Homo sapiens: one gene and its partner. The protein of the gene in region 1 interacts with the protein of each later gene in a pairwise test. Each region holds a gene or a part of one and is shown on either strand. Other genes may lie near its edges. The genes, in order: GADD45B and MAP3K4.

The links.
Region 2: the proteins of GADD45B (region 1) and MAP3K4 interact in binary tests that used the Homo sapiens proteins (3 or more experiments, as listed by UniProt).

Annotation. Positions count from the first base shown.
Region 1 is NC_000019.10:2,466,209-2,482,192, reverse strand, and holds GADD45B (growth arrest and DNA damage-inducible protein GADD45 beta), read right to left. Parts: upstream 6,067-15,984; 5' UTR 5,835-6,066; coding exon 5,791-5,834; intron 5,665-5,790; coding exon 5,563-5,664; intron 5,165-5,562; coding exon 4,942-5,164; intron 4,706-4,941; coding exon 4,592-4,705; 3' UTR 3,936-4,591; downstream 1-3,935.
Region 2 is NC_000006.12:160,991,123-161,007,311, reverse strand, and holds the start of MAP3K4 (mitogen-activated protein kinase kinase kinase 4), read right to left. Parts: upstream 15,544-16,189; 5' UTR 15,381-15,543; coding exon 15,229-15,380; exon of another isoform or gene 14,970-15,228; intron 1-14,969. UniProt on the Homo sapiens protein: Component of a protein kinase signal transduction cascade. Activates the CSBP2, P38 and JNK MAPK pathways, but not the ERK pathway. Specifically phosphorylates and activates MAP2K4 and MAP2K6.

The DNA of each region.
Region 1 (15,984 bases):
CTGGGTTCAAGCGATTCTTCTGTCTCAGCCTCCCAAGTAGTTGGGATTACAGACATCCACCACCACGCCTGGCTAATTTTTTTGTATTTTTAGTAGAGACAGGGTTGCACCATGTTGGCCAGGCTGGTCTCAAACTCCTGACCTCAGATGATCCACCCTCCTTGGCCTCCCAAAGTACTGGGGTTACAGGTGTGAGCCACCACACCCGGCCATGGGAGGCATTTCTATGGACTCATGTGTCCTCTTGCAGGCGACTCTGTGTCCGTGGCATGCAGTATGTGTGTGCGTGCGTGTGAACATGTCCATGTCTCCAGCTGTGAATATGACTGCATAGCGGGGTGTGAGCGTGTGTATGCGTTTCAGCCTGTGAGTGTAGGTTCAGACACAGGCCATCGTGGGCACCCTGGGGTGAGCACGCACCCAACTTCACGAGTCCGGCCTGGGAAGCGTGTCTGCCTGCAACCTGCGGTGGGCACTGCCAACTCTTCCACTCACCGTCGTCCAAGGAATACACACATGTATCCTGGCATCCAGTCCTGAGTGTGGGAGCCCAGAACGGCCCGTGCCAGCTGACTGAGGCTTGGTGCCCTGTGACTACTCCTTCCTGACCCAGCGTGAACTTGAAGGGGTCTGGGGAGCTGGGGGTGTTGCATCCCCCGGGTCCTCTCAACCCAGAGTTTTCCCCAGAGACTGACCAGCCAGACACCGACAATTCAAGACTCCTAGCCAGGCTGTGGCTCCTCCATTCTGAGCCTCAGTCTCTTCTTTGGGAAGATGGGACAACAGCATCTTCCTCACGGGGCCACAGTAAGTTTATAGGTGTTTACAGTTGAGTCCCAGAGAAGACTGAATCAACCTAGCTGCTATTATTAATTCAATGAAACAGCATCCTTCAAAGCCAGTTCCTGTACTTCCCTGGCTTCGGTCAGGGAGACCGTGGAATACTTTCATAAATGACAACAACAATAACAACTGCAAGAGTACTAACAATAGGAGAGGGCCGGGCGCGGTGGCTCCCGCCTGTAATCCCAACACTGTGGGAGGCCGTGGCTGGAGGATCACTTAAGGCCAGGAATTTGAGACCAGACTGGGTAATATAGTGAGACCCTATTTCTTTTCTTTTTTTTCTTTTTTTTGAGATGGAGTCTCTCTCTGTCGCCCAGGCTGGAGTGCAGTGGCGCAATCTCAGCTCACTGCAAGCTCCGCCTCCCGGGTTCACGCCATTCTCCTGCCTCAGCCTCCCGAGTAGCTGGGACTACAGGTGCACGCCACCACACCCAGCTAACTTTCGTATTTTTAGTAGAGACAGGGTTTCACCCTCTTGGCCAGGCTGGTCTCGAACTCTTGACCTCACATGATCCGCCCACCTCGGCCTCCCACAGTCCTGGGATTACAGGCGTGAGCCACTGCGCCCAGCCTTCCACATCTTTTGTGGGGAAGACAATTCAAACCATAACAGGCATAAGCCACCACGCCCAGCTAAATCTAAAATTTTTAAATGAATGATCTTTTAAAAATTGGGGAAAAAAAACCATGATTCTGGAAGTACATTGAAGGAAGCCGGTCAAGGAATCTATATTTCAGGGTCTGTTGTTTGTTTGTTTGTTTGTTTTGAGACAGGGTCTCACTCTGTCACCCAGGCTGGAGTGTGGTGGTGCCATCACAGCTCACTGCAGCCTCAATCTTCAGGGCTCAAGTGCTCCTCCCGCCTCAGGCTCCCAAGTAGCTGGGACCACAGGCCCACACCACCATGCCCAGCTAATTTTTAAATTTTTTTGTAGAGATCTGGATCTCTCTATGTTTGCCCATGCTGGTCTCAAACTCCTGGGTTCAGGGATTCCTCCCCACCTCCCCCAAGCCTCCCAAAGTCTTGGGATTACAGAGAGTGAGCCACAGGGCCGGCCCAGGAATCTATATATCATTTAACCTCCTCAACAATCTATGAGCTAGGTAGCATTATCCCCCATTTTTCAGAGGGAGAAACTGAGGCACAGACAGGTGAAGGTCCTGGCTGAGGGTCCCACCACTGGGGCCCCTCCATGCCCTGTCTCCACTTGGGGCTCAGGAGCCTGAGATCCTGCTGCACAGTTCTAGAGACCGAGGAGCAAGAATGGAACAATCCGGATGGAGACAGACCATCCGATCCCCGGGGGCATAGCCCTCCGAGCTGGCCTCGCCTCCCTACCCTACGAGGTTGACCAACGAAGAGCCAGAGACTGGGAGCGGTGGCTCAGACCTGTAATCTCAGCATTTTGCAGGCCAAGTCGGGCGTGAGGTCAGGAGTTTGAGACCAGTCTGGCCAACATGGTGAAACCCCATCTCTACTAAAAATACAAAAACTAGTGGGTGTGGTAGTGGGTCCTTGTGGTCCCAGCTACTCAGGAGAATCGCTTGAACCCAGGAGGTGGAGGCTGCAGGGAGGCGAGATCGTGCCACTGCACTCCAGCCTGGGCGATGGAGTGAGACTGTCTCAAAAGAAAGAAAAAGAAAAGCCAGAGCTTTTCCAGGCCGCCGCTAGGCGCACCCTTGCCCCACCTGGTCCTTCCCCACCTGGAGCCCCCTTGGGTTTTGGCCCCACATGTTCTCCCGCACCCCAATCCCTCAAGAGCCCCTCGCCCTCTGTCACTCTTCCCAGGTGCCCTCCCCTCTTGGGCTCCATCTCAGGGATCCCCACTCCATCACCCCCTACCCCCTCGGGGCTCCCGCCTCTTCGCCTCCATTCTCCCCTCCCCCAACCCCTTCGGGACTCCTACCTGTCTACCCCCCTCCCGGGGTTTCCCTGTTGGTTCAGGGCTGTGGGGGATTCCCCTTCCCCTTCTTGGGCTCCCCTCTCCCCACTTCAGTTCTCCCCTCCTCCTAGCCCCAGGCGGGATCCTCTCCCCTCCCCGCTTCTCCCTCTGGGACTTCCCCCTCCTTCTCTCTCTCCCTCCCCCGTCGGGGCTCCCCCGATCCCCGTGACTCCTAGGGAGCCGCTGGGGTTTTCCTCATGCGCCCACGTGAGGCTCCGTGGAAAGGTCGCGGCCTGCGGGCAGGACCACCCCACCCCCTCCCCACTCCCCCCTAGTTCCCAGGCTTGGGGGCTGCAGGGCAGAGGGGAACCGAGGTCGTCCCGGCGCCTGGCCAGGGCGGGCCCACTCTGCAGACCCGGGGCGGGAAGACTGAGGCCGGGCACGGAAGGGCTGGGCCACGCTCCCAGCCCGGGGCAGGGGGAGTCACCACCGCGCCTGCAACTTTGGGAGAAGTAGGAGGTGGCTGGCCAGGGCTCGCAGTTTCGGTTTACAGGCAAAACGCAGCACTGCGCCAAGCCCGGCTGGCCCGGAGGCCGACTTCCTGGGGTATTTTTCTGCTTGTTGATTTTAGTTTGCGGAAATAAAAAAAGTTTTTTTCTTTAGTGCAAAAGAGAGGCCTATCCTGGGATGGAGAAGGCTGTGGTGGGCTGGGGGGGCACTCCCTGGGGAAGCCTCCAAAAGCGCTCTTCCTTGCAAGCCCTGAGCTCACCTCGCTGTGTGGTACCAGGTGCCCCCTTGACCGATCCGGACCTTGGGCTGCGGTGGCCGCCTAGGCGGTCAGGGGCTGCAGCCAGCACCCCCTCCCGCTGAAATGCCTCCATATGTGCCCAGAGCTTGGGGTTGGCTCCTGCACAGCCAGTAACAGTGGTGGCACGGCGGCCAGGTTTCGTAATAAACCGGTCTCTTAATTGCTGCAGGGTAGGAGGAGAAGGAAAAAAAAAAAGAGGCATAGATTTGTTGGAGTCGGTGGCGGCGCCTGCTGCGGAGAGAAGGGGTACTGTTTCTGCACGGGAGCCTGGAGCTGCTAACAGGGGCTTAAGTAACACTTCCTGGTGAGCTGGCGGGGGTTGTGGGGGGTGAAGCGTGTCCCCGGGGAGGGGGCAGGGGTCCTAGTTGTTCTAGAAGCCGAAAACATACAAGCAACCAGAGGCTTTAGAAATTTATTACAAGGCCCTCATAGTAGAAATAAAAATATAGATATCTATGCTTCCCATCTCGCTCTCAGTGGTTCGAATAACAAGTGCAAGTAACAAAATAGATTGTCTCTATAATTCGCAAACTGGGAGTTCATGGGTACAGAGCAACTTCAGCCCCAGCTCCCAAGTCCCAAAGTGTGGTCTTGTCGAGGGTGCAGACAAGGACCAACCAAGTTCAACCAAGTCTCTCGTATGCAGACGCCAGCTCCAGTCTCAAGGAGGGTGGGGCTTGCAGTCAGTCTCACTCCACCCCCGAGTGGACAGTCTGGACCCTCCGTGATGGGGAAGGCGGCAGCGTGCCCCGCCACTCCGGCTTCTGCTCCATCCCAAGGCCTCAGCTTCGGGGGTCCTGTCTCCTGCTGGCCTGGGTCCCCCCTTCTCCATCGGATCGGCGGCCGCCAGCTCCTGGATCTCCGCCCTGGGGGCGGCCGCTCACTCCCCTTCTCCTCCTCCTCTTCCTCTTCAGTCTCCAACGACTCTGCCCCCGATGGTCCTCGTGGGTTGGGTTGTTTTGGGGGGGTTGTGCTGGGGGGGAGGGGGTTCAAATATTTATTGTATTTTTTGTTTGTGGCAGCAACTCAACAGATTCTGCTGCTGGGAAGGGCCTCAGCGTTCCTGAAGAGAGATGTAGGGGACCCACTGGTTGTTGCCCCGGCTTTCTTCGCAGTAGCTGGCCACCTCCACCAAGCCGTGGCTCTTCCAGGCGTCCGTGTGAGGGTTCTGTAGGAGGGAAAAGAAGGGGTTTAGTGGAGCCTCCCTCTCCCGGGGCCCCTGTGTGGGGAAAACAGTCAGGCTCAAAATAGCTTCCTGGGTGAGGAGGCCCCAGCCCGGCTGCCCACGGGACATGCCAAACGTGGCTGAGCGCTGAGCTGTGCAGGACCAGTCAGCCCGACTTTGTTGACAAACACCGGCCCAGGTGCCCGGGCGTGGCGGGGCAGGGCAGAGGCCCGACTCACCGTGACCAGGAGACAATGCAGGTCTCGGGCCTCGGTGGTGCCCTGGGTCTCGGCCGGCTCTCCCAGGAGCTGCGCCAGGCGCTGCATGCCCGACACCCGCACGATGTTGATGTCGTTGTCACAGCAGAAGGACTGGATGAGCGTGAAGTGGATTTGCAGGGCGATGTCATCCTCCTCCTCCTCGTCAATGGCCAAGAGGCAGAGGACCACGCTGTCTGGGTCCCTGAGGGGGCCAAAGGGTAGGGATGGGTCAGCCGGGGACAGGGGAGGGGCCACCGTGCAGGGGGAGTTTGCAAAAAAGGAGCGTGCAAGAGCAAAAGAGAAACTGCAAGGGTGCAGGGGATTGCCTCTGCAAGCTGGTGACGGTGGGGGGAGGGGAGGGCACACGGTTCAAAGTATGGGGTAGGGGGAGACAGGCCCACGGCGGGAGGGGTGTTTGCAGACGATACATCAGGATACGGCAGCCCCCGATCCACAAAACGGCAGAGAAGCTCTGCATCCACAGCGGGGGGCACTTGGGGAAGTCCCAGCTCCATGCAAGACAAGCGTGCGGAAAGCGTCCAGAGCGGAGGGGAGGTCCCGTCCCACCCGCGCCCAGCCCGGGAAGGGGGTCTGACTCACACATTCATCAACTTGGCCGACTCGTACACCCCCACTGTGAGGCGATCCTGGCGCTGAGCGGCCACCAAAAGCTCCTCCACCGCGGCGGTCACCGTCTGCATCCTGAGACCAGGAAAGAGGGATCAGTGACGGGCGGACCACCGGGTGCTACGTTCCGCTCCCGGCCCGGCCCAACCCGACCCATCCCGTCCCGGCTGACCTCAGGCGGCGGCAGCCCCGGCTACTTACTTCTGCGCCGCGTTGTCGCACGCCACGAGCTCTTCCAGCGTCATGTTGCAATTATAATCCACAGTGGATGCGGCTCCACGGCAGTCCCCAGGGAGAAATTGCAAAATCCGAGCCAGAGAGCCCAAAACCTTCCCACAGAGCTAGAGCGCTCGTCCAAGACCTTCGGGAAGCAGCGAAATCCTTCCAGAAAAGGCGGAAAAATATATTGCAAAGTCCTTGGCGAGGATAATCCAGGAAGTTGCGGAAACCAACGGTAGTCCGACGCTTCGGCGATCTGAGCTGGGAGCCTCCGGCACCGACTTTTATAGACTTGAACATTGGGCGTGGCCTCAGTGGAGTCATTCGCCCCTCCTATTGGTGGAAAGACAAGGGCGAGTGCAGCTAGCTCTGCGGTTGGCCGACGGAGGGGAGGGGGAGGAGCGGCGTGCGGGGGCGCCCCACGTGGGGGCGAGAACCGGGAGGAGGGCGCGCGGGGGCCGGGTAGGTGACCGCGAATGCCAGAAAAGAAAAAAAAGCAGAAGTTTTTTTCTCCTGATTTCCCGGCAGCCGAGCCGCGGTTCGGGGCGCGCGCGGGATTTCCAGCGCGCGAGGCGGCCCGGACTTTCGGGGGGGCCTGGAATCCCCTCCCGATCCGCGGAGAGTCCCGGACCGCGCCTTTCCCAAGTTCTGCTGGGGGTGGAGGGGCTGCACCGGGAAGGGGCCCCGTTTGCAGCGTGATCTCGCCCAGGTGGTGGTGAGGGCCGGAGTCTCTCCTGGCTGCGACGACCCCAGCCCCTGGGTGATTTCGCTTCTCCCGGCCTCTCTGTTCCCGTCTGAGTAATGGGTCTGCAGCGCCGGCCTCGCTGGTTTGCAGAGCATGGCATAAAATACGGCTGACAGTAAGAGCCCAATACACATCAGCTGTCACCTGGTGGTCGCGGGAGGCCTCCTCGAGGGCCCCGAAAGTGGGAGGTTGCAAAGCCCGGGGCGCTCTGGAGAAGAAAGTGGGCGCCTCCTCGCCGACCCCGCGAGTATCAGGGTGGGGTGCGCGTGGGAGGTGCAGGTGGCGCGGCCCCGCCCCCGCCGGCTGCCTGGCGTTCCAGCCTTTGCCCGTGCGGAGGCCTCCAGGCCCTGGAGAAAGCCATTGTTGAGGGGAATGGTGCAGGCTCCGGCTGCACGCCGCCACCCAGGGCCCACGTGCAAGGATGACGGCTACTTTTATTTCTCACTCCGGGGTGGGCGCTGACCTGCATTGAGTGCGTGGTGCGGACCTGGTACCCCCCACCCCTCCGGATTCATGGATGATTTAATCCAAGACCTGGGAAGCAGGGGGGATGCTTATGTGCATTATGCAAAAGGGGAAACTGAGGCTTGGTGAGGCCATAGGCTAGTTCGTGTTGGAGCCACGCGTGTGCGCCAGGCACGGCCGCCTGCAGGACTCCGCCGCCCCGGGAAGGCTGTTCAGGAGCGAGGCTGGCAGGCCCCGCATGACAACGTCTCCCACGGTCGACTGGGGGCTCCCGGGTGACTCACATCTGAGTCCCCTCCCCCGCCAGCCTGGGGTCTGGCCTCCGCCCGGCGGCTCACTTTCCCCAGTTGCCCGGCTCCCCGGCCCGCGGGTCCGGCTGACGCATCCCACCTCCTCCGCGCCGCCCACCGCTGGGGCACGAAATGTCCCGGGGCTGCGAGGCGCGGTGGCGCCATCTGGTGGCCGCGCCGAGTTTCTGCGCCCTCAGCGCCGGAAGAGAGGGACGGACGGGCGGGGCACTGGGCTGGAGGCGGGGGATAAGGGGACCGTGGCGGTTGCAACGTTTTATGTAACTTTATGCAATGTTTTACGCATGCAACATACATATTTATATTTTATAATTTCAATTTAAAAGTTAAATCGGCCGGGCGCGGTGGCTTACGCCTGTAATCCCAGCACTTTGGGAGTCCGAGGCGGGCGGATCAACTGAGGTCAGGAGTTCGAGACCAACCTGACCAACATGGCCAACATGAGCTGAAGATAAGGAAGATCAGGGAGGTGGGTGGGATAAGTGCAAAGTCAGATTCTGTCTTTATTTACAATTTTGATATTTTGTTCCTCATGGATACTTGGGCATTGATTTTGATTTTTAAAAAGTATTGCAGGCTGGGTAATCCCAGCACATTAGGAGGCTGAGGCGGGCAGATCGTGAGGTCAGTTCGAGACCAGCCTGACCAACATGGTGAAACCCTGTCTCTACTAAAAACACAAAAATTAGCTGGGCGTGGTGGCACGCGCCTGTAATCCCAGCTTACTCAGGAGGCTGAGGCAGGAGTATCACTTGAACCCAGGAGGTGGAGGTTGCAGTGAGCCGAGATCATGCCACTGCACATGGCATGGTGACAGAGAGAGACTCCATCCTCCCCAAAACAAACAAACAAACAAACAAACAAACAAAAAGGCCGGGCACGGTAGCTCACTCCTGTAATCCCAGCACTTGGGGAGTCTGAGGCAGGAGGATCACCTGAGGCTGGGAATTCAAGACCAGCCTGACCAACCTGGAGAAACCCCATCTCTACTAAAAATACAAAATCAGTCGGGCGTGGTGGCACATGCCTGTAATCCCAGCTACTCTGGGGGCTGAGGCAGGAGAATTGCTTGAACTTGGGAGGCAGAGGTTGCAGTAAGCCGAGATTGCAGTGAGCCGAGATCGTGCCACTGCACTCCAGCCTGAGTGACAGAGTGAGACTCAGTCTTTAAAAAAAAAAAAAAGAAAGAAAGAATGGGGTGTGTTGTGTGCACCCAGCTACTCCGGAGGCTGAGACAGGAGGATCACTTGAGCCCAGGGGTTCCTGGCTGCAGTGAGCCGGGATTGCACAGTTGCATTCCAGCCTGGGCAACAGAGTGAGACCCCGTCTCAAATAAATAAATAAAATAAGGGCTGGGCACGGTGGCTCATGCCTGTAATCCCAGCACTTTGGGAGGCTGAGGCAGGTGGATCATCTGGGGTCAGGAGTTCAAAACCAACCTGGCCAACATGGTGAAACCCCGTCTCTACAAAAAATACAAAAATTACCTGGGCATGGTGGCACATGCCTATAATCCCAGCTACTCGGGAGGCTGAGGCAGGAGAATCGCTTGAACCCGGGAGGTGGAGGTTGCAGTGAGCCGAGATTGCACCACTGCATTCCAGCCTGGGAGACAGAGCGAGACACTGTGTCAAAAATAAAGCAAATAAAATAAATAAAATAAGGCGAGCAAAGCAGGGCCTCAGAGAATATGTGTCCAAGTCCTTCTTCCGTGTGTCCCCCGTGCCAGCCATAACAACCTCCTCTGCGAGAGGCCCAGCCTTTGTCAGCTGTTTCCTCCGCCTGGGATGCTGTCTTCCTCTGGTCTTCAGCAGGAAAACCCTACTCCTCTGTCAACACTGACTTGGCCTTGTTTTCTCCCAGACTGACTGCCTGGACCCCCATGGTCCTCCACCCTCCAGGCTTCTCTTTCTAGACCCCAAGCCCACCTGTGCCTCCTTTTTCCAGCCCTGGCTCCAGGCATCTTAGAATATCTGGAGTATCTTGGAATATCTTCAAGAGACTCTGAGCTCTGTGCCTTTGAGCTCAGAAAATGAGCTCCAGCCGGGCCAGGCGTGGTGGCTCATGCCTGTAATCCCAGCATGTTGGGAGGCCGAGGCGGGTGGATCACCCGAGGTCAGGAGTTCAAGACCAGCCTGGCCAGCATGGTGAAACTCCATCTCTACTAAAAATATAAAAATTAGCCAGGCATGGTGGCGCATGCCTGTAGTCCCAGCTACTCAGGAGGCTGAGGCAGGAGAATCGCTTGAACTCGGGAGGTGGAGGTTGCAATGAGCCGAGATCGTGCCACTGCACTCCAGCCTGGACAACAAGAGTGAGACTCTTTCTCAAAAAAAAAAAAAAAAAGAAAATGAGCTCCAGCCTCAGTTTCTTTCTCTGTAAGATGGGAACAGTCACACAAAGGCTTCATCACAGGCATTGAAGGAGGAAATTCCCAGAATCAGGTAAGCACTCAGGAAATGTGTGCTATTATCTTTGGGCTGGGCGCCAGAACTCACCTCTGTAATCCCAGCACTTTTGGAGGCCGAGGCAGGAGGATTGCTTGAGCCCAGGAGTTTGAGACCAGCCTGGGCAACATAGGGAGACCCCATCTCTACAAAAATTTTAAAAATTAGCCGACCGTGGTGGTGCGCACCTGTAGTCCCAGCTACGTGAGAGGCTGAGGTGGGAGGATCACTTGAGCCTGGGAGTTTGAGGCTGCAGTGAGCTATGATTGTGTCGCTGCACTCCAGCCTGGGCAACAGAGGGAGACCCTGTGTCTAAAAATAAAATAAAATAAAAAATGAGATCAATAACAGTGTCGCCGAGGCCATCTTGGAGCCTGAGGTGAGAGGAATAATCAGTATGAGTAATCCTGTCATAATCTTTTTTTTTTTTTTTTTTTTTAGACAGAATCTCGCTCTGTCACCCAGACTGGAGTGCAGTGGCGCAATCTCAGCTCACTGCAACCTCCACCTCCTGGGTTCAAGTGACTCTCCTGCCTCAGCTTCTCAAGTAGCTAGGACTACAGGCGCCCTCCACCACACCTAGCTAATTTTTTGTATTTTTAGTAGAGACAGGGTTTTGCCATGTTGGCCAGGCTGATCTCGAACTCCTGACCTCAAATGATCTGCCTGCCTCGGCCTCCCAAAGTGTTGGAATTACAGGCGTGAGTCACCGTATTTGGCTTTAAACAAAATAAATTTTTAAAATTTTATCCAGCATAGAGGTTTTTGCATTCATTCAGAGTTAAAAAAAAAATGTGGCCGGGTGTGGTGGCTCACGCCTGTAATCCCAGCACTTTGGGAGGCTGAGGTGGGCAGATCACGAGGTCAGGAGATCGAGACCATCCCAGCTAACACAGTGAAACCCTGTCTCTACTAAAAATACAAAAAATTAGCCGGGCGTGGTGGCGGGCGCCTGTAGTGCCAGCTACTCAGGAGGCTGAGGCAGGAGAATGGTGTGAACCCAGGAGGTGGAGCTTGCAGTGAACCGAGATCGCGCTACTGCACTCCAGCCTGGGTGACAGAGCAAGACTCCATCTCAAAAAAATAAGTAAATAAAAATAAAAAATAAAAAAACGTACTGCAGGCTGGGCACGGTGTTGCGGGGGGGCTTTGAAGTGATTAGGGTCAGATGAGCTCATGAGAGTGGAGTCTTCTAATGAGATTAGTTCCTTTCTCTTTTTCTTTTTTGAGACAAGGTCTCCCTGTATTGCCCAGGCTGGAGTGCAGTGGTGTGATCATGACTTCGTGCAGCCTCTGTCTCTAAGGGTAGACTCATGCCTGTAATCTCAGCCCCTTGGGGGCCAAGTGGGGAGGATCGCTTGAGCTCAGGAGTTCGAGACCAGCCTGGGCAACCTGGCAAGACTCCCATCTCTACAAATAATTTTTTTTTTGAGACGGAGTCTCGCTCTGTCACCCAGGCTCTGTCACCCAGGAGTGCAGTGGTGTGATCTCGGCTACTGCAAGCTCCGCCTCCCAGGTTCACGCCATTCTCCTGCCTCAGCCTCCAGAGTAGCTGGGACTACAGGCGCCCGCCACCTCGCCCGGCTAATTGTTTGTATTTTTAGTAGAGATGGGGTTTCACCGTGTTAGCCAGGATGGTCTCGATCTCCTGACCTCGTGATCCGCCCACCTCGGCCTCCCAAAATGCTGGGATTACAGGTGTTACCCACCACGCCTGGCCTTTTTTTTTTTTTTTTTTTTTGAGACGAAGTCTCTCTCTGTCTCCCAGGCTGGAGTGCAGTGGCACAATCTCAGCTCACTGCAACCTCTGCCTCCCGAGTTCAAGTGATTCTTCTGCCTCAGCCTCCCAAGTAGCTGGGATTACACTGCGCCCGGCTAATTTTTAGTAGAGATGGGGTTTCACATCTTGGCCAGGTTGGTTTCGTACTCCTGACCTCATGATCCACCCGCCTCGAGTTCCCAAAGTGCTGGGATTACAGGTGTGAGCTACCGCACGCAGCCACAAATAATTTTTTAAAAATTAGCCAGGTCTGATGGGCACACCTGTAGTCCCAACTACTCGGGAGGCTAAAGCAGGAGGATCACTTGAGCCCAGGAGTTTGAGGCTGCAGTGAGCTATGATCGCACCACTGCACTCCAGCCTGGGCGACAAAACAAGGCCCTGCCTCAAAAAGAAAAAAAAAAGTGGGGGCGGGCTGGGTGCAGTGGCTCATGCCTGTGATCCCAGCACTTTGGAAGGCCAAGGAGGGCAGATCACTTGAGGTCAGGAGTTCGAGACTAGCCCGGACAACATGGCGAAACCCCGTCTCTACTAAAAATACAAAAAGTTGGCCAGGCGTGGTGGCAGATGCCTGTAATCCCAGCTACTCAGGAGGCCGAGTCAGGAGACTCACTTGAGCCTGGGAGGTAGACATTGCAGTGAGCCGAGATCATGCCACTGCACCCCACCTGGACAACAGAGCAGGACTCTGTCTCAAAAAAAAAAAACGGTAAAAAGTCAGGTTCAAGGGGCTCTGGGGGCAGAGGTCCCAGGCAGCAGGCACAGTGTTTGAAAAGGCCCTGACGCAGGACCTCACCTGTTGCATTTGAGGAATCCCAAGGAGGCCCTGGGGGTGGAACAGAGTAAGCAAGAGGGAGAGCCGGGAAGATGAGCTCACAGAGACGGGCTTTGGGGGCTGCGGGGAGGGGTCTGCGTGTCACTCCGGATGTAGCCAGGAAGTGATTGGCAGCGGCTGGGCTCTGACATCATGTTTTTCTGCAAAGATGAACAAAACGAGCAAGACATGACTCCTGTCCCCAAGGAGAGGTTTCGGGATGGAGCTGAGTCATCATTTGAACTTGCAGACATTTGTAAGACAGGCCTGGGGTGGGAGGAGGTGGGATCACCACGCCAGGTGGCAGCGGAGGCTACGGCGAAGGCTGAGGCACATTTGGGAAATTCTGAGGACAGTGGCAGGGGAGGGGCAGGGAAACTGTGCACAGCAAGAGGCTGGCAGGTCTGGGACTATGCCTCGCAGAGAGAGGGAGAAGGAGAGGCTCTGTCTGAGGTCACGTTTGCCTGGTTCAAATCCCACCTGCAGCCGTCATCAGCTGTGTGTCCTTGGGTTGGTGGCTTAGCCTCCCTGAAACTCCCTCTTTTCATGGGAAAAGTCAGGTTGTGGAAATGTTTACCCAAAACAAGGACCTAGAATGGGCTTGGCATAGAAAGTGCTCCGTACACCTCCCCTACTGTAGTGACCTCGAAAGCCACTCGAATGCCGGACGCGGTGACTCACACCTGTAATCCCAACACTTTGGGAGGCCAAGGCGAATGGATCACTTGAGGTCAGGAGTTCGAGACCAGCCTGGCCCACATGGTGAAACCCCCTCTCTCCTAAAAATGCAAAAATTAGCTGGGTGTGGCGGAAGGCGCCTGTAATCCCAGCTACTCCGAGAGGCTGAGGCACGAGAATCGCTTGAACCCGGGAGACGGAGCTTGCAGTGAGCTGAGATCGCACCACTGCACTCCAGCCTGGGAGACAGAGTGAGACTCTGACTCTGTCTCAAAAAAAAAAAAAAAACAGAACGGTATATCCATCAGGCAGGACATTCCTGGGGCCTAAGAGTCACCTCCCAGTGGCTGAAACAAAAGCCAGATCTCTCTCTGGTCGAGGCAAAATTTCTTGCTACACAATGGACAGGAATCATTCGCCTTGCACTGAGTATTTTACAACTTACACACTTGCTCACAGACATCGGAACAGCTGGAACCCCCGGCAGCAGGCATTGCAGACAATGCTAGCATGGTGGGCAGCTTCGGGCCTGGCTCCAGTGATCCCCCAGGGTGGTTAATTTTTTTTTTTTTTTTTTTCTTAGAGATGGGCTTCGCTCTATTGCCCAGGCTTGAATGCAGTGACATCGCAGCTCACTGCAGCCTTGAACTCCTGACTTAAGGAATCTTCCCATCTCAGCCTCCCAAATAGCTGGGATTGCAGGCATGGGCCACCACACCCCGCTATGCAGGGGTTCTTCCTGCCCACTGCATAAAGAAAGACCACGTGACTGGGTGCAGGGGCTCACGCCTGTAATCCCAGCACTTTGGGAGGCCAAAGTGGGAGGATTCCTTGAGTCCAGGAGTTTGAGACCAGCCTGGGCAACATAGGGAGACCCCCAGTCTAACAAAGTATTTTACTTAAAAAAAAAAAAAAAATAGAGGCTGGGCGCGGTGGTTCACACCTGTAATCCCAGCACTTTGGGAGGCCGAGGTGGGCAGATCACCTGAGGTCGGGAGTTCGAGACCAGCCTGGCCAACATGGAGAAACCCCGTCTCTACTAAAAATACAAAATTAGCCGAGCATAGTGGTGGCGGGCGCCTGTAATCCCAGCTATTCGGGAGGCTGAGGCAGGAGAATCGCTTGAACCCGGGAGGCGGAGATTGCAGTGAGCTGAGATTGAGCCACTGCACTCCAGCCTGGGCAACAGGGTGAGACTGTCTCAAAAAAAAAAAAAAGAAAAGAAAGGAAACAACGAAAGAGAAAGAGACCACAGCATTGTAGTAGAGAAAGAGTTTAATAGACATGAGGCTGGCCACGCCACGTGGGAGATGGAATTCATAAATCAACTTGTTCAAACCTCATAGGTTAGAGGTTTTTCTTTATTGCGACGAGTCTCGCTCTGTCACCAAGGCTGGGGTGCAGTGGCGCCACCTCAGCTCACTGCAACCTCTGCCTCCTGGGTTCAAGCAATTCGCAACCTCTGCCTCCTGGGTTCAGGAGGTTCTCCCGCCTCAGCCTTCTGAATAGCTGGGATTACAGGTGCACGCCACCACATCCAGCTAATTTTTTTTTTTTTTTTTTTGGTGGAGATGGAGTTTCACCATGTTGGCCAAGCTGGTCTCGAACTCCTAACCTCAGGTGATCCGTTCACCTCAGCCTCCCAAAGTGCTGAGATTCCAGGCGTGAGCCTCCACGCCCAGCCTAGGTTAGGGGTTTTTCAAGGGCAGTTTTGTGGGAAGGAGTGGGAGTGGGCCAGGTAAACAGGTGCTTGCTGCTGGTTGGTTGGGGGCAGAGATGGACTCACAGCAGGTTGCAGGGGTCCTCCTGCCGGCCAGATCGCTTCTGTGTGGAACCTCAGGAGCAGGGTTGTCAGTCCAGGTGGAGCCACGGGTGTCAGACATGCAAAACACGTGGAAAGACATCTCAAAAGGCCAAACTACAATAATGGTGTTATTTGCAGGAGTAATTGGGGGAACCACATCTCTTTTTTTTTGTTTTTTTTTTGTTTTTTTTTTGTTTTTTTGCATGCTGAGTTTCGCTTTGTCGCCCAGGCTGGAGTGCAGTGGTGAGATCTCGGCTCACTGCAACCTCTGCCTCCCAGGTTCAAGCGATTCTCCTGCCTCAGCCTCCCAAGTATTTGGGACTACAGGCATGGGCTACCAAGCCTGGTTAATTTTTGTATTTTTAGTACAGATGGGGTTGCACCATGTTGGCCAGGCTGGTCTTGAACTCCTGGCCTCAAGTGATCCACCCGCCTTGGCCTCCCAAAGTGCTGGGATTACAGGCGTGAGCCGCCGCACCTGGCCTGGAAGCTGCATATCTTATAACCTCCAGAATAACGTTTGCACCTTAACAGATGTCAGGCTCCCCTCCTCCCTCAACCTGAAGGCCTCAGGTTAGCTTGACAAAAGCTGTTGGGTTTTGTGCAAGGTCTACTATCACTTAAACTGTAGCCTAAATGTCTTCCCAAGTTAGCTGGGCCCAATAGCCCAGGAATAATTAAGGCAAGATGGGGGTTAGTTAGTTTAGCCTACTGTTATAATTTTCTCGGCTGGACGTGGTGGCTCACGCCTGTAATTCCAGCACTTTGGGAGGCCAAGGCGGGCGGATCACGAGGTCATGAGATCGAGACCATCCTGGCCAACATGGTGAAACCCCATCTCTACTAAAAATACAAAACTTAGCTGGGCATGGTGGCGCGTGCCTGTAGTCCCAGCTATTTGGGAGGCTGAGGCAGCAGAATCGCTTGAACCCGGGAGGCGGAGGTTGCAGTGAGCCGAGATTGTGCCACTGCACTCCAGCCTGGGCGACAGAGCGAGACTCCGTCTCAAAAAAAAAAAATTTTTTTTTCTCACTGATAGAACTTTTGCAAAGGCGCTTTCAGCTAATTTTATTTTTTGTAGATATGGGGCCCTGCTCTGTTACCCAGGCTGGTCTTGAACTCCTGGCCTCAAGCG
Region 2 (16,189 bases), on another chromosome or scaffold:
GTGAATGTTTTTCCCCACTGCAATATCCCGAATAAAATCGTCTACTTAACTGTCCACTGTATTTTTCCTTTGTTTTGATGCCAGGACTCAAGCAGGATGAAGACCTTGCCTTCAGATCCCTGTTGACTCCACCCAAGTAACAAGACCTCTGGGTTCCCCTGTGCCTTGTTTCTGGTCTGTGACCTGGGGACACAACAATGAGTACAATTCCTGGTCCTGCGCTTTGGACCTTGCTCATCTGCAGCACAGTAAGGAACTGATTTTTACTCTGAGATTTGCTTTATTTCTGTTGCTGGTTACTTTTGATTTTACAGTTTGTCAATCTCCATAAACAAATTAATGGGTTATAATAGGGATATTTTTTCTGTTAGGAAAGATGACAGAGAACCTGATTATTTTTTTCTATTTGTCTACTTTGAGCTCAAATCAGTTAGGAATTTCATGACCACCAAGAAGCAGATCTCGGGACTGGAGAATGTTACATTTGCGTATGCTTGATCCATGACTAAAATTTTAAAATTGAATATATAGGCTTTCTCTTTGTGTTCTGTGTCTGTTTGTAACTATGAAAGGCCTATACCTCTCATTATGTGAGTGTATATTCTGTATATGTTCCTACCTTTAGATGATATTCTCAAATAGGTTATAAAATCCCTTAAAGGAGAGAGCTCAATTCTGACTGGCTCGCAGATAAGTACAGCCATCCTTCAGTATCTACGAGGGATTGATTCTAGGACCTCCCTTGGAAAAACAAAATCTGGGATGCTCAACTGTCTGATATAAAATGACGATATCTGCATATAACCTATGCACATCCTTCCATATACTTTATTTCTAGATTAGTTATAATACCTAATACAACATAATTACTATGTATATGATTGTTACACTGAATTATTTAGGGAATAATAACAAGAATAAAAAAGTCTGTACGTGTTCAGCACAGAAGCAATTTTTTTTCTGAATATTTTCAATCTGCAGTTGGTTGAATCCACAGATGCAGAACCCACAGATACGAAAGGCCAGCTGTCCTTCTATAAATTGAATAGTCCTAAAATGCTCAGAAGTCAAGGAAATTGCACCTTTAATTCAATGTGAGAAAAAAGAAGACATGGATCATGGAAACTAACTCAGAAACAGTTTCAGAATTCAAATTCACACAATTTAGGTAAACCTTTAGTAACTGATACTAGTTTATATTGTTGGTTTAATAAAACAGCCATGTTGGTCGGGCACAGTGGCTCAAACCTGTAATCCCAGCACTTTGGGAGGCCAAGGTGGGGGGATCATGAGGTCAGGAATTCGAAACCAGCCTGGCCAAGATGGCAAAACCCCGTTTCTATTAAAAATACAAAAATTAGCCAGGCACGGTGGCGGGCACCTGTAATCCCAGCTACTCGGGAGGCTGAGGCAGGAGAATTGCTTGAACCTCGGAGGCAGAGGTTGCAGTGAGCCAAGATTGCACCACTGCACTCTAACCTGGGCGACAGAGCAAGACTCTGTCTCAAAAAACAAAAATAAAAAAACAGCTATGTCTTCTCTGACTTATCAGTGTGTTAAATATACGCACAGATTTTTATTCTACTTGTAATGTTCTTCCTAAACTTATACATGTTTATTAATCAAATAAGCTAACATTACTACTACTTAATGCTTAAGATTCTAAAAAAGGTAAATTTGTATTTAAACAAATTTAATCATTATCTGACAAACTTTATTTCAATAATCACATCAGCTTGAAGATAATTTCCAAGGTCTCTAGGTAATTTAAAACTTCTGATACTAAATTGACTTAATCAATGGGTATTCATTAGATACCTACACCATTCCTGAGTACTAAAACACTGATTATTAAACACAATTTAAGTCTAAAGCTGGGCACAATGGCTCACACCTCTAATCCCAGCACTTTGCGAGACCGAGGCAGGCAGATTGCTTGAGCCCAGGAGTTCGAGACCAGTCTGGGCAACGTGGAGAAACCCCATTTCTACAAAAAACTTAAAAAACTAGCCACGCATGGTGGCATGTGCCTATAGTTCCATCTACTGGGGAGGCTGAGGTGGGAGGATCACTTGAGCCCAGGAGGTCGAGGCTGCAGTGAGCCATGATGGTACCACCGCACCCCAGCCTGGACAACAGAGTGAGACCCTGTCTCAAAAAAAAAAAAAAAAAGTTTATATACTTTTGTGTCTTGAGTCCATTAATGAATGTGTTCATTTTGAATACAGAAAGTTGTAGAAGGTTCATGGAAAGGGAATTTTATTTGTCATGGTCAAGACTGGATAAGTTTGGTGGTTTTAAATAAGGTTTTTAAAAAGACCTTTAGTATCAAATGTTATACTGATACAAAACTAAAATCGTGTTTTCTCTGTTTCAACGTCAAATGTTTATCAGATTACTGGTTTGCTCTTAATAGACTGTAAAAGTTATTCTTTACTTTTCTACATTATCTGCACAAACAGCAAGATTCTCTGTTTTACTATGAAAACCTATGGTTTCTGCCAACTTATTATGTCCTTGATTATTTAAGGAACAAGTTTCTCCTTCAGGAAAGTTTCTTGACGATCATGTTACCACTTATGTTTACTTTCAAAATATTTATTGTCACTTGGGTTAAATATAAAGTCATCTATTATTTCTTGGTAACCCACGATCCTATCTTAATTGAAGTTTTCAAATCTCCTGGCAACTTTTAATATTTTACCTTACCAAAATCAAATCATAAATATCATTTGCACCTAAAACTGTCTTTGAGATTTCCCAGATGGTGGTCCCCGAAACAATCACAAAGATTTGTTCTTTCACCTTTTAAAAAAAGAAGTGCTAGAAAATAATTAGGTTTATCTGTCATGTTGTTATTGATGAGTTGTCAAGTCAGAAGAAATGCTTAGCCTTCTCTAGGTTAAATGTGTATAGGTAAAATGTTGTAAATATTTCAGACTCTGCTTGCTATAGAAGTTAACAGAAAATTGTCAGTGCTCTCACTGACAATGATACACTGCTATTTATCAGAGTCCTGGTGCTACTTTGTTCGATATTAGACAACACAGCATTATGGGTCATAATTTCAGCTTTGTTTTTAAATGTTGACTTGGTCCCAACTTAATTTGAATCTAGTATCTTCCAGGCCAGTGGTTTTCAACTGGATATTCACATTACTTACCTATGATGTTTCATTAATAAGCACAGATAGATGTTCAGGACATATTCCGGACTTACAGAATCTCTTTCTCTGATATTCTTGGTATATTTTAACTATATGCTTGGTATATTGTTGGCATATATCAGAACTATCATATGTTATATCTAAACTTCTTTTTCTCAGTAATTATATTTATATACTTTTATTTCCCAGTAAAGATTAACTCTTATTTTCAAGAAAGAGTGGATATTCCATCTAATTTATAAAAATGGAATAGCCACTCTTTCTTGAAAATAGAATCCTTATGTTTATATGAATATTTTGTTTAAAAAAATTTTGGAATGACTTTAATCTTGTCTTGTACAACAAAGAAACAACCAAATATCCTTATTAATTGCTTTATTCTTATAATGAAATCTCATTGGATCTTTCACTTTTGAAAATTATAGTAATAAGTTAACCACAGCCACTTTAAGTTATTTTGTCATTTACAGATAGGTTTTCGTTCTACCTTGCTGCTTCCCTGACAGCACTTACAATCAGCTACAGGCCACAGTGCCTGTCTTCAACAAAGAAGAGCTGTCTTGGGACCCAAGGAAAAGGACTATGCCAGGTACCTTGCAGTACAGTCTTCTGATGTAATGTTTAAACAACTTTGAGAAGATACCAGTGGACTGACTCAGGATTTCTAGAACTCTAATCAAGAAGAAGATAAATTCATGAGACTGCTAACTAAAGATCAAGTGGAAAAAGAATTACACAGGACTGAATGAACTAATCAAGGATGACCGTGGATTCTGTTGAGAATATTGTTGCTGTTATTAATGTTTTATTTTCTGAATATATAAGGAGCCCTTTCCTCTTAAGCGATCTATACCTCATTACAATTTAGAATATGCTTTTGTAAATAAAATTATCCAGTGCATTTTGTCTTTCACACTGGTATGAATAACTTAATACCTTTCTAGAAAGAAACATAGCAACACCTCTCAAAAGCCTTAAAACTCTAAATATCTTATGACCTAGGAAGCTATCCTAAAGAAACAATCCAAAATAGTGAAAAATTCACAAAAATATTTGTATCAAGTCACTAATTGTAAGTGGAATCATATGTCACAAACCATATGTTATATCATGTTATCAAATTCAAACTATTAAATTATGGGATATACATCTAGAGGAATACAGTTTGCCATTGTCTGTCATAGGAAAATGCTCATGATATGGCAGCTTGTAAAAATAAACTGTATAAAAAAAATACACAGAAAAGAAATATGCCGGCCGGGTGCGGGAGCTCACGCCTGTAATCCCAGCACTTTGGGAGGCTGAGGCGGGTGGATCACAAGGTCAGAAGATCGAGACCATCATGGCTAACATGGTGAAACTCCATCTCCACTAAAAATACAAAAAATTAGCCGGGCATGGTGGCAGGCGCCTGTAGTCCCAGCTACTCAGGAGGCTGAGGCAGGAGAATGGCATGAACCCAGGAGGCGGAGCTTGCAGTGACCCAAGACTGCACCACTGCACTCCAGCCTGGGTGACAGAGCGAGACTCCATCTCAAAAAAAAAAAAAAAAAAAAGCCAAAACTATTTTTAGATGGCAGAATTAGAATTGGTCATTTTCTTCTTTATATGATTCATAGTTTTCCATAATAGATACAGGTTACCTTTATAATCAGGAAAATTTCTAACTGATTAAGTTACTTTTATTAAGCGAGAAGATTTCACTCACTTTTCTCAGGCAGTAGCTAGATCAATCTAGTTTTATTACGTGAAAAGATTTCATTCATTTTTCTTAGGCAGTGGCTAGATCAATTTGAAAACTATTCCTCTTACAGTGTATAACATTTAAAAAATGAAAAGAAAATTAATCCAAGTTATAAAGACACAAGTTAAATGAACTAAAAAGAATTTCCACAGAAAAAGACAGCTGTGCCTATTAACCTAAACAATCACAATCAGTAGCGTTACAGTTCTTAATTTAGCAGCATGATTTATGATGATCCAAGGGCCAGCCAGAATTCCAAACACCTGTAGGAATAATATGCAGAATAAACCACAACTAAAGTAAGAGAGAGAATCTGGAAAAGCTAGATCCAAAAAAAAAAAAAAAAAAAAACCTTTTTCTTATTTCTATGGCTTCTGCAGACGTTGGGGGGGAAATGTTTCTTGAATGGAGATTATTGCAGCTATTTTTAAAAGTATCCAGCCTCAATGCATATTTGGTGGCTTTTTAAGAAAATCACTATAGGATTTGCCTCTTTTACCTTAAGCCCAAAAAGAGGAAGAAAGAGAAATGTAATAAAACAGCTAATACTGAGCACTTACTATAGAACAGGAATTACTTAATCTTAATAACAACCTAGGAAGATGTTATTATTTTTGCCTTTCAAATGCGGAAACAGACTGAGAGAGGCTAAATTACTTCCCCACAATCCTACTGCTAGCAATCAAAAGGTAACATTCAAAGCCTATCTACTACCAAAACCTATGCTCTGCCTCCTTCATACAAGTGTCAGCAAAGAACCTGCTGTTAGGCAACGAGCCAGGAATTAGGCAATAAAAGTAAGCAAAACAACAGACGATGCCCCAGCCCTCATGGAGTTTACTGAAGGCAAACATAATAAACAAATATGTACACAAATATATAATTACAAATGGTGGCAAACTGCAGGGGCTCTGAGGACACATAACAGAAGGATCTCATCTATTCTGGGGGGAAGCGGGGGAAATGTCAAGGTGGACCCTAAAGTAAGCAATGCTTAAGACCTAAAGTGAAACTGCTGTACCCTAACATAGATTACATATGACATATATATCATGCATATACAGAATATATAGATGTGAAATATATTGTTTGAATTATTTGATAACATTTATAACACATAGCTTGAGACATACATGATTCCACCTATAATTAATAACTTGATAAAAATATTTTTGTAAATATTTTTTGTAAATTTTTCAGTATTTGGATTTGGATTTCTTATATATGTGTACACATATATATGTATATACATATATACTTATATACACTTGTATTATATATGTGTATATAATATATATTATATATTATATACATATGTGTATATTATAATATATAATATATATTATATACATATGTGTATATTATAATATATAATATATATTATATACATATGTGTATATTATAATATATAATATATATTATATACATATGTGTATATTATATATAATATGCACTATGTGTGCATATATATGCATATTATACACTATATATGTGTGTGTACATATATGTATAGTATAATATACATATATGTATGTGTACACATGTGTATATGTGCGTACACATGTGTATGTGTGCATACACATGTGTGTATATATGGGTGTACACATGTGTGTATATATGGGTGTACACATATGTGTGTATACAGATGGGTGTACACATATATGTGTGTGTATGTGTGTGTATATATGGTGTACACATATATGTGTGTATATATATCAGGGGAAAATGAGTTCCTTTCTTTTCTTAAGGACTGCTCTATGTGAAAAATTTTAAACACAGGTTACTGTTTCAGAGAAAGATCAACAAATTACCTAAATTATTCACATAATGCCAATCCCAATTTTACTCTAAAATTAATCCTAGATTTTAAACTGATCTTTACAATTCTTGTAGTTTAAGGATAAGCAGCCAAGAGAACAACCTTGAGAGACAAGCATAGATACATTCTTACTCTTGCCTTCGGGTAACAATGCTGTCTTCAAGAAGTAAGTATTGCCGAGCTTCTTCAAAATTCCATTTGATCATTTAGTAGACAAATAGTGTACTTGTTCTCCTGACTCAGTCTCAAGGGACAAGGTACAAAGTATAACAGCATCCATTTTATTTTGGGTAGAGCTATGCTTTTAAAACTGAGGGTCACAACCTATTTGTGGGTAATAAAATCAATTTAGTAGGTTATGATGAACAATTTTTAATAGAACAGAATAAGAATTATTTGAGTATCATATATTGCAAGGTCAAATACTGTTTCAAAATTGTTTTCTTTTGGTTATAAGGCACACACACACTGTCATAAAATATATTTCTTACTGTAGGTCACGACCATAAACACAGTTTCAAAACCACTACTACAGACCAGAAGTTAGAATCTTACTGTCTTCTTGATGTACAGACCGACGCCTGAAAATAACAACGTATCTGAAAATTTCTGAGCATTGGCTCTTCTTTATTCTGCGAGCAAGAAATAAAAGTTTCACGGGGGAAAAACGTTGTGGATGATGAGTTTTAAGAGGATTTCATATTTTCTATTTGCATTTTTTTCTAAAAACAAATCTTTCATCTCGTTTGATCCTGTTGAGTCCAATTCATCCAGAAAATACAGCATTTCACGGTTGCCAAGTAACTGTGCACATGGGCTTAAGCTGGGCTATGTATGGCAGGTGGCTGGAGAACACCTTGGCTTTGGACCTTGACCAGGGGAGCACATGGCGATGCGAGGGTAAGGGAAGAAGGGCTTGCAGATCTGGAGCCTAAGCTGTCAGCTGGGAAAGCTGCAGCCCCTCTAGGCCATTTTTCTCATCTCTAAAACGAGACGCACAGCCCAAATGATCTTATAAGAGCTCAACTCTTGTAATTCTATAAGCAATGGCTAGGAAGTTGGATGAAATGAACACTAAGCGTCCTACCATCTGTAAGAACTTGTATTAGCAAATGTTTAAATCCTTATCTGAGTAAGAACTAAATACTTAACAGATACAACTAACTAACTCCAAAAATTGTGTGAGAAAACCAAGTTATATCTACATTTTTATGTTCCCATATAAAAAGACTTTAGGATTTTAAATAAAATAAATGTACTATCGTCCAAAAGTTCCCCACTGAAACACTAAAAAGGTTGACAATTTCTATTAATTTGACAACTCTAAACTAGCTGTCCTCTAACAAGCCCTATTCAGAAAGTTCTACATTTCAGCAGTATCTTCAAATAGCCTGCTCACACACAAAAAAGCTTCCACTGAAAACATCAAATCTGATCAGCTTTAAAGCTTAGTATCTACTTTTCTCCACAGAAGGCTTATTTTGTCTGAAATGAAATCCATGTATGAAATGCTTTTGATAGACTGCCTAATATATTCTTAATAGCTTTCCCTGCTAATTTATAAACACGTGGCATCCATATGACCCATGAAACCAATACTGCTGAGGTAGGTCTGCAAATTGCAAAACATGAACGTTCTTGTAATTCAAAAACAAAACTTCATGTTGCCTGCTAGTGAATAAATATTTAAAGGCAAAGGCACTCGATTACACAGTGTGAGATCTGCAGGGGTCTAAAAATGCACCTACCATACTCACTGCCAGTGGAATAATGTATCTTTTAAAATATAGACATTTCAAGTACACCGCTTAAAATGGGGAAAGCATTTAAACACAATATACATGTTGAGAACACAGTTCTAGATTTTAAATATTTCTATTAATGTAAAAGACCACCCTAATGTAAGTCCTGTGTTTGTTTTGTTACTGTTGGAGTTGTTTCTAATCTACATACTCTATTACCCAAGCTGAAGTAAATAGTTTTTTAAAAGCAGCTTGCTACAGCCAGCTCAGATAAGCCAGCTCAGATACCAAAAATAAATAAAATCATTTAAAATTTGGCAACAATATTCTCTTTATATCACATGGACTCTCATCAATTTCAATTTTAGTAACAATTCAACGTAAAGAAACTTAAAATTATAAATGAGCTAGTTAAGAATTTAGGCTCTCTGATTAGCTTTTTATTTTAAAATAAAATGTGTAACACGTTCATCATAAAAAGTTTTAGGAAAAATTAGTATGTATTTTTTATATCTTTTTTCTATGCACATACTTTTTAAAATGCGATCACACTGAGTATTAGGGTTTTAAGAAGTTTAACTCAAATTAATAGTTTAAGCACAAATAGAGATTAGCTCACATCAAATCAGGAGAAAAATAGGGACAAATCTAGCACAAAAGGGCAACTGGCTGACAGTGTGGTGGTGCGCACCTGTAGTACCACCTACTTGGGAGGCCAAGGCAAAAGAATTCTTTGAGACCAGAAGTTTGAATCCAGCCTGGGTAACATACAGAGACTGCCATCTCTTTATTTATTTTTATTTATTTATTTATTTTAAAGGCAACTGGCCATAGACCTCTTTCAGCCTCTCTGCTTTTCTCTGGGGATTAACATCACTCTCTGAGACCAGGTCCTCTGTAGGAGCTTCAGGAAGCTAGCTCTAGGCTCATGAATTCTCAGCCTATACTTCAGTAAAATGCGCGTTTCTCTCTCCCAGCTCCAATTTGAAAAATCCCAGGAAAGAATCCTAATTGGCCTGGACTGGGTCAAGTGTCATGCCTATGGCCTGGCATCTGTAAGAAGAGGGCAGCTCCAATATGTACCATGTAGTTTGAGTCAAGAGAGGAATTCCCCCAAATAAGGTAGAAGGAAGACAGTGAAGTAGGGCAGACACAGCCGGTGGACAAATATGTGTATGAGATGAAAAACTACCTCAAATTTTGGCTCCCATCTTCTGCAAATTCTGTTTCATAGTCTGTTTGTTCTTGCTGAACACAGCGGTGAGTATGTATACATCAGAAATACTTGAGAATCTTCTTAAGAAGAGCTACTCAGGTACCACCCCAAAAGGAGTTGTATCATGAGCATCTTCACATGTCACTAAACACTATTTAAAAACAGTTTTTAATAACTGGATAGAATTCTGATGTGGTTCTGATTTTTTAAAATTTAATTTTATGACTTAAATCCAGAAAAGCCAGATACCATCATGATCCTTTTTGAACACAATATTCAAAAAGAATTTTATGAAAGCACCAACCACTGACATCTTTGCCACATTGTTCTGAGAAACTATGCTAAAGGATTCTTGGCGAGGGGTGGTGGGACAGAGATTATGGGGAGAATACTGGGTGGGGGATGGAGACAATAAGGTGATCCTCTGAGACTCACCATTAGTAAAAATGTACCGTACCACTGAGGTTTAAAAAAAGAAATCTTAAAGTGAGAAGGATAAAATATACTCCCAAATTAAAGCAGGAAAAGCAAGGTTTGTTATAAAGACTGAAGATTAAAACAAACATACTATAACCCAAACAATTTAGGAAAGTTTGTGACACAAGGGAAAAAAGCAGCCTGTGTGATGCCTAGAAAATAAAAACCTAAGAGTAAGTCTGGATCACACTGCCTCTCATTCAGAAGCAGGGGTGCACCTGCTAGGGATGCAAGCCCACCTCACTGGTCTGCTAACATGAGTCACCGGGATCATTCAACTCATTTCCCTTGCTAATATCATGCTTACTAATCAATCTCTTAATTATACTTTGGCTTTCTACAAGCAAGAGAATACACTGACTAACCAGGTGTACAGACAAAGCTGAGTATCTGTGCCTGAGAAGCCAAGCACAGTGAGTGTCTGGGCCTTGATTATCGTGCCAAGGGAGTGCCAGCTTATGAAGACCTACGGAGTCTTCAGCTAATCTCCTTCTCTCACGTTTTCCATTTTCTCTTTAAAGAAACCACTACCAGTAGCCTACTGATAGGCAACGTTAAAGAGTCTTCAAACAGCATACATACTACCTGGTCAAATGACAAGGCTGAGACAATAGAATGCTATGAGTAAAATCATAGTCATGAGGAATGAGGAATTATTAAATAACAGGAAGTTATTACAACAAATGTATCCAGTGAGCAGGCAAGACCTTTATATCCCCGTATTTCAGCAGAGCTCAGAACAAGATTTGCAGGACACCATGAGAGCATACATGAAGGAAACAGAGTGGCCTCTAACAATGACAGAAAATTAAAGGGAACTACAAAGTCCTCCTAAGTGACAAGTCCCCAGTTGAAAACATGAAGTTTCTGCCATCACTGCTGTTTGGTGACTCCTCTCTGCCTAACGCCACCCCCGCCAATGGCATCTACTGTTACAGTGGTGTAAAGGCATGACCATCACTGATGCTACACCAACAGTCTGGAGCACCACAGGAGGCTGACTTTGCCAGGGAGAACAGTTGACATACAAGGTCAAGACTGAAACACACAGGCTCAAGGTGGACATTCAAGCCGAGAGGCAGAGCAAATTGCCTAGGAGTGACGACATTCAACTAGTTTTTTAGTAGGAAATCCAGTTTTTCAAATGAATTTACAATAAATATATAAAGTAAATAATTCATTTTTTAAAAAAAGTTAATTGTTAAATTTATGCAGCATGTACTCATAAGGACAATGAGAACAATGAGGCTATTTTTAATATAAATATTTTAAATGAAAGGTTATAGTAAACAAGAGCATTATATCAGCCTTAATATCCAATTTATTCTGTGTTTTAGGTGTACAGATCCAATAAGTCACAAAGGTAAATTGTTCCAAATTAGTTTTAATAGCTCTCCTAGTCACCTCAGGATCCTCCTAAAACTGCCCCAGAAGCTTGAAAAAGAAATGATAAGCAATGTTTATTTCAAAATTTAATCACTAACAATAACAACAGCTATCCTTATCATGAATTCTTTATCAAAAATAAGGACAAAAGTATCCACAACTGACAGCAAGCAATAAAACTGGAATAGAGTACTATGACCTCTCTGCCTGTTTTGTGTTGCTGGGTCACTGCATAACACTCTTGGGTCAGGAGGAAAGCACACACTAGGCAGATGTGCTGGGCTGGCTGCACCTGCCACGATGGCACACTTGCTGCACAGCTTTGGAGGCCAACATGTACAGGCCTGAATTCTACAAAAGGCCTGTGCATTAACACAACCTTCCTAATCAATGACACACAGACATAAAGTATGTGACAAAGATGGCAAACAGAGTTTTATTCTAGTCTGTGGCAAAACCAGTTAACCTGGTAGCATAAATTATCACATTATTGGTTTCCAATGTATTAAAAGGTGGCATTTCACACATTTTCAACAAACATAAGAAAAAATGCTCAACATCACTAATTATCAGGGAAATGCAAATTAAAACCACAATGAGATACCACCTTACTCCTGCAAGAATGGCCATAATTTAAAAATAATAATTAAAAAAATAGACAATGGCATGGATGTGGTGAGAAGGGAACTCTTATACACTGCTGGTGGGAATGTAAACTAGTACAACTACTGTGGAAAACAATATGGAGATTCCTTAAAAAACTGGCCAGGCGCAGTGGCTCACGCCTGTAATCCCAACACTTTGGGAGGCCAAGATGGGCGGATCACGAGGTCAGGAGTTCAAGACAAGCCTGACCAACTTGGTGAAACCTTGTCTCTACTAAAAATACAAAAATGAGCTGGACCTGGTGGCAGGCACCTATAATCCCAGCTACCCGGGAGGCTGAGGCAGGAGAATTGCTCGAACTCGGGAGGCAGAGGTTGCAGCGAGCTGAGATCACGCCACTGCACTCCAGCCTGGGCAACAGAGAAAGACTCTGTCTCAAAAAAAACTAAAAAAACCTAAAAACTAAAAGTAGAACTACCATTTGATCCAGCAATCCCACTACTGAGTATCTACCCAAAGGAAAACAACTAATCATATGAAAAAGACACATGTACACACGTTTATAGCAGCAATTCGCAATTCACAACTGCAAAAATATGGAACCAACCTAAATGCCCATCAACCAATGAGTGGATAAAGAAAATGTGGCATATATACACCATGGACTACTACTCAGCCATGAAACAACGAAATAATGGCAACTGCAGCAACTTGGATGGAGCTGGAGGCCATTACTCTAAGTGAAGTCACTCAGGAATGGAAAACCAAACATCGTATTCACTTATAAGTGAGAGCTAAGCTAGGAGGATGCAAAGGCGTAAGAATGATATAATGGACTTTGAAGACTCGGGGGAAGGCTCAGAGCGGGGTGAGGAATAGACTACATATTTGGTACAGTGTACATTGCTTGGGTGACAGGTGCACCAAAATCTTAGAAATCACCACTACAGAACTTATCCATGTAACCAAAAAACACCTGTACCCCAAAAACTATTGAAAATAAAATAAAAAAGAAAATTGTAAAAAAAAAAAAGAGGTGGCATTTCACACATTTTGAACACGTACACTGAGCTCCTCTAAAATGGTTAAAAAAAAAAGTTCAAATGAACAACTGGATAGACCCCCTACATCTTTTACCAAAGATCTACAGTAATTCTGTCAGAGGTCAGTTCTATGTATTGAAGAGCAGGTGGTGACAACGAGGACATAAAAAAGAGAAAACAACAGCTTTGTCAAGTAATCTGTTTTACAGATTTTTCTATTGTAAAATTAACTGCAATGTTGCTAAGAAAAATATTGAGATCTTCTTGTTCCGTACACTGCTGTTCACTTACAGTTGGATGAAACCCATTATCCTGACCTATTTTTATTATAACACAGACAGAAGCCTGACTGAAAAGTCAAGTTTTTTTTTTTTTTTACCACTGAAGCAGCAGTCATTTTTGCAGCACATTTTCATTTCTCTGCCCTTCTCGCTTTTACCTAAGAATGCTCATGTCCATTTCTTTCCGGAGTAGGGTTATACAGAATTCTAATTTCTGATCCGCCCATTTGGATAATGAATTCTTCATGGTGGTTAAAGACATGGGCTGTGCAGCCAGACCTTTCTTCATTACCAGCTGTGAAACCCTGGACAAGATACTTAAACTGTGTGCCTCAGTTTCCTCATCTGTCAAAAAGAGAGTATAACAGGACCTACCTCATAGAGTTGTTGAAAAGATTAAATGGGTTAATAGAAATAAAGACAATGGCCTATTTTAACCGTTAAGTGTTCACTATTAATTTTAAAGAAAAAGGTATCAAAATTGCTCGAAAACTGATCCGTTAACAAATTTATAATAAACTTTCTGACAAAATTTCTAAAAATACTAGATGTATTCAAAAGGAACCAAAGGAATTCTCATTACACCCTGTACCATTATTCAGAGAAGTTGTTCCTTAGAAGTACCCAGAACTATCTCAGAATTAAAAGAGGCAACTAATTTCTTCACAGCTTATAAAAATAAAACAAATTTGTTTGGGCCAACTGAATGATGACAAGCAAGAATATGGCTCCTGTGTTCAGTTCTAACTACAGTTACAGGTGTGAATTTTCTTTAAGCAGGAAAAAGAGGACACTTTACTGCCTTATTCCTAGAACCATAGAGCAAGACCATAAGATGCCAAGAGGAGCTGCCGAGGTATTTTCATTACAGGGGACAGGGGGCAGCAGTTTGCAAGTTTACTCTGGGATGCAAAGGACAGGGAGTAAGAGGACATTTGAACATACAAACATAGGCACGTAAAAAGAGGGAAATTCTCAGTTATGGTGAGTTTGTTCTCTCAATTAAAAAAAAAATAAAGACATAAAAATAAGTTAATAGAGTATGGAAGAAAAAGCAACAAATGCTTTGGTTACCGAAGTTCCACCTTAGAGCTTCCTGCAGTAGCAAAGTTTTAGACAAATGAATCCTTACTTTTGTGCACGTGTGAGCAACAATCTGCACAATACTAGCACTAAAGGACAGTAAGGGGCCCTCAGAACAGGAAAGCAACGTATCTGTCTGCATAGTCTAAGTGCAATTTCTCACGGAAGAGATGACAGGCATTCTCTGGAGCGGGCAAAAGGAGAGGAGGAGGAGAACGCGGGGAAATAGCCAGTACGCACTCGATTTCCGAATGTCTCTTTTACTCGAATGAGGGCAGAGGGGAGGGACCACTTTCGTTCAGTAATGATGAGAGGCACTTCAGTGAGGCCACTCTTCCGAAGCTAGCGGCAGGGGAGGCAGCCGCACTCTGCTCCCAGCCCCCGCAACGTTGAGGGTGAGCTGGGGGAGTCTACAAGGGAAGGGGAGCCGGCAACACGCTCGAGCGGAACCCTGCGGAGCTGCAACCCCGGGAGGAGTCGCCGGACAGACTCAGACGCGGTCCCCTGGGACCCAGGGATGCACCGCGCCCCTCCCGCCCCAGCCTGCAGAGACTGGATGCTTCCCTCCCCACCTGGCGGGAAGCAGAGGCCCTCGGGCCCGACCGAGTTCGGGCCAGGACCCGCCCCGCTTTCTGCGAGCGACCGACTGCGGCCGCCACACTCACCTCGCCGCCAAGCAGCACTCGGGTTCTGACTCGGTCTCGGGTTCCGGTGGCGGTGGTGGCGGCGGCGGCGGTGGCGGCGGCTCCTCCATGGCGGCGGCAGGCGTGACGGCAAAGGCGGGAGGAGGGACCAGCGCGGCAGCGGCTTCTCTCATCCGTGCACGGAGCCCCGCATGGCCGCGGCGGGCAGTAAGCTGCAGCCTGGCGCGGGGCACCGGAGCCCCGAAGTGCGGGAGTGACTCGACTCCGCCTCCGCCTCTACCCCGCCGCAGGAGCCGTGCGCGCCGCGGCCATCTTGGAAACGGCGACCGGCCGAGCGCCGGGGCTACGGTGGGCGGCGAGGGACAAGCCTCCCAGATCGGCGGCGGTGGCGGCGGCGGCGGCGGGCGCCGGAATGCGACCGGACGGGGGCGGAGACGGCGGCAGGGAGGGGCGGGGAGCGCCGTCAAGTGTCGGCGCGATTCGGTCCTGGAGCCGGGTCTCGCCAGCTCGCCCGGTGTCGCCCCGGCCGGTGGCAGTGGGGGACTGTGGAGCGGAGCCGGGCTGTGCAGCGGGCTGGGAGCTCGAGGCTTCCCAGGCGGTCGTCGGTCTGGGAGGGACGCTGGGTAGGGCCGATGAGCGGGGCGGGCGCGACGCTATGAGCCCGGCCGGAGTCGCCGCCCAGGGACCTGCCACCCGGATCCCACCTTCCAGGAGGACGGACGTCACCCAGACGCTCGCAACTCCGGTCTCTTGACAGCGCAGCCTTCCACAGGCTCGAATTTTTAAGACTTGACATAAAGTCTCCGGAATTCCAGATTATTAAAGTGACCCCCTCATTTCAACCCGGCAAAACTTCTCACCCCAGTGTCATAAGATTCGATAGCGATCTCCCAGAAACTTGGACTGGAATGCTCCTACACTGAGGGGATGGGGGGAAGAAGAAATGCTAAAGATTATTTCAGAGTTACAGAAATCCTGTTGA